Linked DNA regions of Homo sapiens. The protein of the gene in region 2 purifies or fractionates together with the protein of the main gene of each other region. This does not show direct contact. Each region holds a gene or a part of one and is shown on either strand. Other genes may lie near its edges. The genes, in order: APAF1 and AVEN.

Region 1 (3,824 bases), on a different chromosome or scaffold from region 2:
GGATCTGTAATTTTAATATGTTCTGATTTAGGGTTTGAGGAGAAGGCAGTCTCTAATTTTTTTTTTCCTTATTTGAATCAGCATATTGAGAAGAGTATAGCAAAGAGGAAGAATCATTTTCCTAGATCTAGCCATCTATTTGTTTTAAAAAAAATTTAATTTGGTAGATTTTAAAAGACACTGGTGGGATTATCTTTTTAAAAGGAAGCTTAAGATAAGTGTCATTAGTGATTAATATTTTTTTTTTAAATTAGGTCTCTCTTGATCTTGGATGATGTTTGGGACTCTTGGGTGTTGAAAGCTTTTGACAGTCAGTGTCAGATTCTTCTTACAACCAGAGACAAGAGTGTTACAGATTCAGTAATGGGTAAGGATTATTCGTTTACTTTTTAGTACCTTTATATTTAATTTAATTACATTTAAATATGTGACATACCAAATTACTTACTTTGTCTTGTGATTTTTGTTTGCAGGTCCTAAATATGTAGTCCCTGTGGAGAGTTCCTTAGGAAAGGAAAAAGGACTTGAAATTTTATCCCTTTTTGTTAATATGAAGAAGGCAGATTTGCCAGAACAAGCTCATAGTATTATAAAAGAATGTAAAGGTATGGTTATTTATTTGTTTATGAGGAGATTATAGGGAGTTATATAATTTCCCTTTTGTTAATTGAGCTAATGAATATGGTAATTTAGCACATGAACATCCAAAAACTTTTCTGGGAGATTTAGTATTTTAGGTTCTCTGATATCTTAAATGGATACATGATATTATGGTATTTATTTATTCATTAAAATAATATTTACCATCTACCCACAGTGTGTTAGAGACCACATTAGTGAGAGAAGTGAGACACAGATGTGACCTCTGCTGTTAGAGTTAAAAATAGAGTGAGAATCAGATTTTAAAACTTGTTTTTGCTTGGGATTTTATAAAAATAGTGTTCTAATTTGGTAAGTAAAAACTGGTGTCTTAATTTGCATTTTTTTTTAGCGAAGTTAAACTTTTTACTTGTTTATTGAATACGTTTTAAGAAGTTATCCTTGACTTTAAGAAATTATCCTTGACTCACTTTTCTTTTTTGATATAAGTATTTTTAATTTATTTCTAAATACTCAAAAAATAGAAACTATTAGCTCTTTGTCATATTTTTACAAGTATTATTTCCCAGTAAAACAATTTTTTAACTTAAAATTTATATATAGAATCTCGCTGTGTTGCCCAGGCTGGTCTTGAACTACTTGCCTCAAATGATCCTCCTGCCTTAGCCTCCTAAAGCACTGGGACTACAGGCATGAGTCACCATGTCCAGCCTGTTACCCAGTTTTTTGTGTACCTTTTATTTGTTGTATTCTTTTGACATATAGAAGCTTAAAATTTTAAACAGTCAAATCTATCAACTCTTAAAATTATTTCTTTCATTATTGTTATGCTTGGAAATACCTTATTTTTCTTCTTTTTCTTTTTTTTTCTCTTTTGAGACAAGTCTCACTCTGTCGTCCAGGCTGGAGTGCAGTGGCGTGATCTCGGCTCACTGCAACTTCTGCCTCCCAGGTTCAAGCAGTTCTTCTGCCTCAGCCTCTCGAGTATCTGGGACTACAGGCATGTTCCACCATGCCTAGCTAATTTTTGTATTTTCAGTAGAGACGGGGTTTCGCCATGTTGGTCAGGCTGGTCTCGAACTCCTGACCTCAGGTGATTGCCCGCCTCAGCCTCCCAAAGTGCTGGGATTATAGGCATGAGCTACCATACCTGGCCACCTTATTTTTCATTCTGCCATCAAATAGACACACAGTTTTGTTTGTTTATTTATTTATTTATTTATTTTATTTATTTTTTGAGACGAGTCTCACTCTGTCGCCCAGGCTGGAGTGCAGTGGTGCGACCTCTGCTCACTGCAACCTCTGCTGCCCAGGTTCAAGTGATCCTCCTGCCTCAGCCCCCTAGTAGCTGGGATTACAGGTGCGTGCTACCTCACCCAGCTAATTTTTGTAGTTTTAGTAGAGATGGGGTTTCATCATCTTGGCCAGGGTAGTCTTGAACTCCTGACCTCGTGATCCACCTGCCTCAGCCACCCAAAGTGCTGGGATTACAGGCGTGAGCCACCACACGTGGCCAGTTTTGTTAATTTTTAAAGAAATCTTACACTTAGAAAAAATGCTTAATTTGTAGTTATTACAAAGGGTGATGCATGTCCATTTTGAAAATGTGTGAAACTAAAAAAAAAATAGAAATTATCCATAACCTGATAATTATTAGCATCATGAGAGTATTGCCTCCAGTCTTTTAGAACAAAGATTTAAAAAGTTGAGATTATGTATATGTGGTTTTGGATTTTGCCCTTTTTTTTTTAAAGAGCCAGGGTCTTGCTCTGTCACCCAGGCTGGAGTGCAGTAAGATCACAGCTCACTGCAGGCTTGAATGTCTTGGCTTAAGCAATCCTCCTGCCCCAGCCTCCTGAATAGCTGGGACTGCAGATACCCACCACCACACCTGGGTAATTTTTAAATTTTTTTGTAGGGACAGGGTCTCACTATGTTGCCCAGGCAGGTCTCAAACTTCTGCCCTCAAGCAATCCTCCCACCTCAGCCTCCTGAAGTGCTAGGACTACAGACACATGTCGCCACACCCAGCTGGATCTTACCCTTTTTCTATATCTTGAGCATTTTCCCATGTTGTTAAATATTTTTTTGAAAAAAATTTACCAGTGGCATAATATTGATATATCTTAATTTATTCAACCACTTCTGTATTATTGGACATTGTTTACGTTGTTTAAGATTTTTTCACTATTCTAAGTGTGCTGTGATGAATATCCTTAAACTTAATCATTCTTTTCTTTTTCTTTAAGACAGAGTCTCACACTGTTCCTCAGGCTAGGATGCAGTGGTGCTGTCATGGCTCACCGTAGCCTCAACCTCCTGGGCTGAAGCAATCCTCCCACCTCAGCCTCCTAAGTAGCCGGCACTATAGGCACACACCACCACACCTGGCTGATTTTTCTAATTTTTATTTTTAGTAGAGACAAGGTCTCATTATATTGCTTAGACTGGCGCATATATATATATATATATATATATTTTTTTTTTTTTTTGTAATGACATCTTAGCCAGATTTGATCTATGTTATTTTGACTTAATAAAGATAATCAGGAACTTACTGAATGAAATCTTTCTTATTTCTAATTTTTTTTGGGATAAATATCTAGAAGTGAAGTCAAGAGTGATAAATACTTAAGGCTTTTGATAACATGCAGCAGAAATTGTTTCTTAGTAATGTAAGTAAGTAAGTCGATTCTTATTAGTGACAAAATAGGATGGTATTAGCATAGTGACTTCATTTTTTTTTTAAAGGCTCTCCCCTTGTAGTATCTTTAATTGGTGCACTTTTACGTGATTTTCCCAATCGCTGGGAGTACTACCTCAAACAGCTTCAGAATAAGCAGTTTAAGAGAATAAGGAAATCTTCGTCTTATGATTATGAGGCTCTAGATGAAGCCATGTCTATAAGTGTTGAAATGCTCAGAGAAGACATCAAAGATTATTACACAGATCTTTCCATCCTTCAGAAGGACGTTAAGGTGCCTACAAAGGTAATGGGATCAATGATCCTCATCATTGGGTATTTATTGCATGTAAGCTTTGATATAGTACTGAGCATGTTGTTACAGAGAACCTTGGAAGGATAAGACCCAGGGGACTGAGGTGGTGGGGTGTTGGGTGTAGAAATCCCTCTGCTGTTAGCTTCCATTAAGGGCTTTGTGTTGAACTCAGGAGTTAACCTATTTCTGTGGTTCTAGTGCAGCTGAAGAAGCATCTGACTTCTC
Region 2 (3,824 bases):
TGGAGGCTTTTGCAATGACTGACAAGCTGAAAGAAAAGCAAGCATTTAATGAAATCTAACCTGATCTCTTCTCTAAATTCAGACTGCTGGCCTCAGAAGAGGAAAGGGCTATTTAGGCAGTGAGAAGGGACTGACAGGTGTTGCGAAGGTTTCAAACGAGCTAGTCTCCTCAAAAAAAAAAAAAAAAAGCCACTTTGTAAGAAGGCTTTCTTTTTTGGTCACCAGTTTGCCCCATAAAGGGCTAAAGCTGAAGAAGGCCTTAGATATAAAGTTAGCTGCAGTGAATTGCTTTTAATACTAAACTGTGAATTTTAAAAATAGGTTTAATTGGAATAATAATAAATCAGCATTTTGTACATGTTTTAAAGTATTCGGTGCATTATTTTTGCCTGGGTAACCCAGCTCCCATGTCAGCCTGGTCAACCCTGGCAGCCACTTGGCAGTTGAAGTAGAGGGCCTGGCCTACGACATCTGGCTGCAGACAGGAGCAGACAACACCCACTAAGGATGCTATGGGGGTGGGGTGTAAAGAGAAAGGAGACACTCCAGTGCTGGGGAGAGGGGAGCCAGTCCTGACTGTAGGACAAAGCCTTTCTGTCCCACTTCTCTGCCATCAGTGTGCACAGGACCCTGTCTGTGTGCTGAGAATCTGCAAGCCTGAAGCTTCCTCTCTGGCCAGGAATCATAAGACTCTGAGTGTCCAGTATCTGTATAAAGGCACACTCTTTAGTAAGAAAAGAACCCGCTATATACTTCACTTTGCAGCTAAAAAACATACCCTTCAATCAGACTATTACATCCTCCTCAGAATCTACAGCAATTACTGTCCATATGAGCCTGGGGCCCAGAGACCATGTGTACATGGTATGGTGGAGTAATAAGCTGGGCAGCTTTTTAAGATACAGGTTCACAGGCCTCACCCACAGAACTGAACTCTCTGGGTGGCGTGGGGGGAGCCGGGAATCTGTGCCTTTAAAAGCCAGGCCCTCAGGAACGGCCGCATATCACTCAGCAGCCAGCAGTTTGCTCAGCAGCCAGCAGTTTGCTCAGCAGCCAGTATATTGCCCAAGGAAGTCCTACTGGATAAGTCACCATGTCAACAGAAATTTAATGTGGAATTTTAAAAACTTAGGTGATTTAAAAAATAATAAATCTGTTTGTTCACCCAGGGAAATTACCTTCCCACTCATCCTCTCTTTACATGGTACCCACCCTGTCCAAAGGAAAGGTATGAGAATCCCACTTGTGGATCTAAGAGACCGACACCCCTGTGGTCATGGAGGCCAACATAGCTAGATCAGAGCACCCTGACCGCCGACCTGTGTCCCTTCACCCTGCGTATCAGCCACAGAGCAACGAACGCCAAGTCCAAGCCGTGACGCCCGGTCCCTCTCCTGCCAGGATTCCCTTGAGGATTTTGGACATGTCTCCCTATCAAACTCCCACTCCCTTTAACTGCAAAGACAAAACATATTTCTACTTTTCCTTTTCTTTTTTTTTTTTTTTTTTTTTTTTTGAGATGGAGTCTCTCTGTTGCCCAGGCTGGAGTGCAATGGCACGATCTCGGCTCACTGCAACCTCCGCCTTCTTGGTTCAAGCGATTCTCCTGCCTCAGCCTCCCAAGCAGCTGGGATTACAGACGTGCCCCACCACGCCCAGCTAATTTTTGTATTTTCAGTAGACGCAGGGTTTCACCATGTTGGCCAGGCTGGTCTCGAACTCCTGACCTCAGGTAATCTGCCCACCTCGGCCTCCCAAAGTGCTGGGATTATAGGCGTGAGCCACTGCGCCCGCCCCCTCTCTATTGTCTTGCGTCACTGGTCACACTGAGGACATGGGATGGTATAAGGAACAACAAATTACATATATGTGTGTGTGTACATATATATAATATATAATATATATATACACTCAACATATAATATATATTATATATATGCACTCAATATATAATATACGTATTATATATTACATATAATTATATATAATACGTATTATATATTATATATATCCAGTTTTTTCTCTTACATCAACAAGGAAGAAAATTTAGTGAGGAGTTAAGTCAGACAGGAAATCGTTTTGATGGTGAAATGAATTCAGTTTCAGCCATGTCCTACCAACACCTCCAACTCGAACTGTTCAAAATCAAACTTAACTTCTTTCTGCTCTTATTTTTTTCCATTCATGGCATCACCACTCACCTAGTTACTCAAGCTAGAAAGCATAGTGCCATTGCAAATCTTTCTTGTCCTTGTGTCTCACATCTGGCCAGTGAGCACAGTTGACCCCATCCTCCACTCAAGTCTTGTCTATGAGTAACCCCTGTCCCACGCTCACTGCCTGACCCTCTCAGGCTCTCGTTCTTTCCCATTCGTCCAACATCACATCCTCCTAATCGGTTTCCCTGCCTCTAACCTCTCATCTCATCCGTTCAATCCCTCCCCATCCTTCCCAATACTGCTGAAGTTAGATCTAACCATTTCCATGTTCTTGCTAAACAAAACTTTGTTAACAGATAATATTAGTAATAAAAGAGCTCATTTTGAGTGTTTCATATGCATCAGGAACTGCACTCAAGGGCTTTTTATTTATTATCTAATTTAGTCCTTCTTATAACTCTGAGTTATATTTTGTTATTACCTCCATTTTACAGGTGAAGCAATAGAGAAGGAAAAAGTTTGCCCAAGTCTCAGATCTAGAATTCACACTCAGGTCTGAAACTGCTGGTACTAACTAGCCCACACCTGCCCCTGAGGCCTCCTCCTCTGGGAATACTACACTCTGGCCACACCCTTCTCTGAGCATAACCTCGTTTTCCTGATCTTACCATTTTCATGTTGTTTCCTCAGACAGGACCTACCAGAGTCACACTTGTCCACCAAGACCCGTTCAAATGATCTTTTCCCCATGGTACCAATTCTAATCACTTCCAGTGCAAAGTAGCTATCTCTCTCAGTATTGTTAATTCATTCATCACACCCCTTATTTTAGGTTGTATTCTTTTTCATGTATTAGGTAAATATCTACTGAGCATCTACCATACTACAGACTACAGGTCACCGAGTGTGCCCAGGTAAGGGGCTTAGAGCAATGAACAGGCATGGTCTGTCTCATTCACTTTGAATAAGCTCCATTTAATAAAAACATTTAGTAAACAAGTGCTCTATGTTTTGATGAATGACGAAGCTTAGAATTATTTGAAACTCTGAAGCTACTTGAAATATTCTTTGGTAATCAGTATGGTTCAAAAGGAGATGAAATGTAAATTGTTCGGCTTCTACCATATTCCTCAACAATCTATCTTCGATGTGTCCTAGAATACTAAACAGTACCTCAGGCGTAGGCCCAGACTTAAGCAAAGACAAATATTTGTAATTCTCACCTTTTTCTATGGCATATATAACACGTTCTTTGTAAAGTGCCAGGCAGTCATTTTCTAAGAGACTCCCCTCCTCGTAATCCGTATGCGTCAAAGGCCATCCCAAACAATTGAGCCTAAAACCAGCCCACAGATCAAACGAGCCACCCACAGCACATACGCTGATGTGGGAGCAGAACAGGGAGGACAGTGCCTACGGGCTTCGGGTCTGCAGCTTCAGCCACCTCTCTGAAGCTGGGGGCAGATGGTAATCAGTTTATCAGACAGTATGCTCTAGGCCTGGAGTTGGGGAGCATATCACAAGTCACCACTATGTCCCTATGTGCATCCTAAAAGGGGGAGAATATCTGTCATCTCTTATATGAAAAGAATTAGAGGAAGCCTGCTTGGAAAATAATCAGAACTCCTTGGGAAGAAAATATTACATACACACAAAGAAAATAAG

What was found.
Region 1: the proteins of AVEN (region 2) and APAF1 purify together in Homo sapiens (affinity purification with western blotting; one study listed by BioGRID and IntAct). This does not show direct contact.

Annotation. Positions count from the first base shown.
Region 1 is NC_000012.12:98,662,202-98,666,025, forward strand, and holds part of APAF1 (apoptotic protease-activating factor 1), read left to right. Parts: intron 1-254; coding exon 255-367; intron 368-473; coding exon 474-605; intron 606-2,849; coding exon of another isoform or gene 2,850-2,878; exon of another isoform or gene 2,879-3,157; intron 3,158-3,351; coding exon 3,352-3,590; intron 3,591-3,824. UniProt on the Homo sapiens protein: Oligomeric Apaf-1 mediates the cytochrome c-dependent autocatalytic activation of pro-caspase-9 (Apaf-3), leading to the activation of caspase-3 and apoptosis. This activation requires ATP. Isoform 6 is less effective in inducing apoptosis.
Region 2 is NC_000015.10:33,871,604-33,875,427, forward strand, and holds part of AVEN (cell death regulator Aven), read right to left. Parts: intron 1-3,824. UniProt on the Homo sapiens protein: Protects against apoptosis mediated by Apaf-1.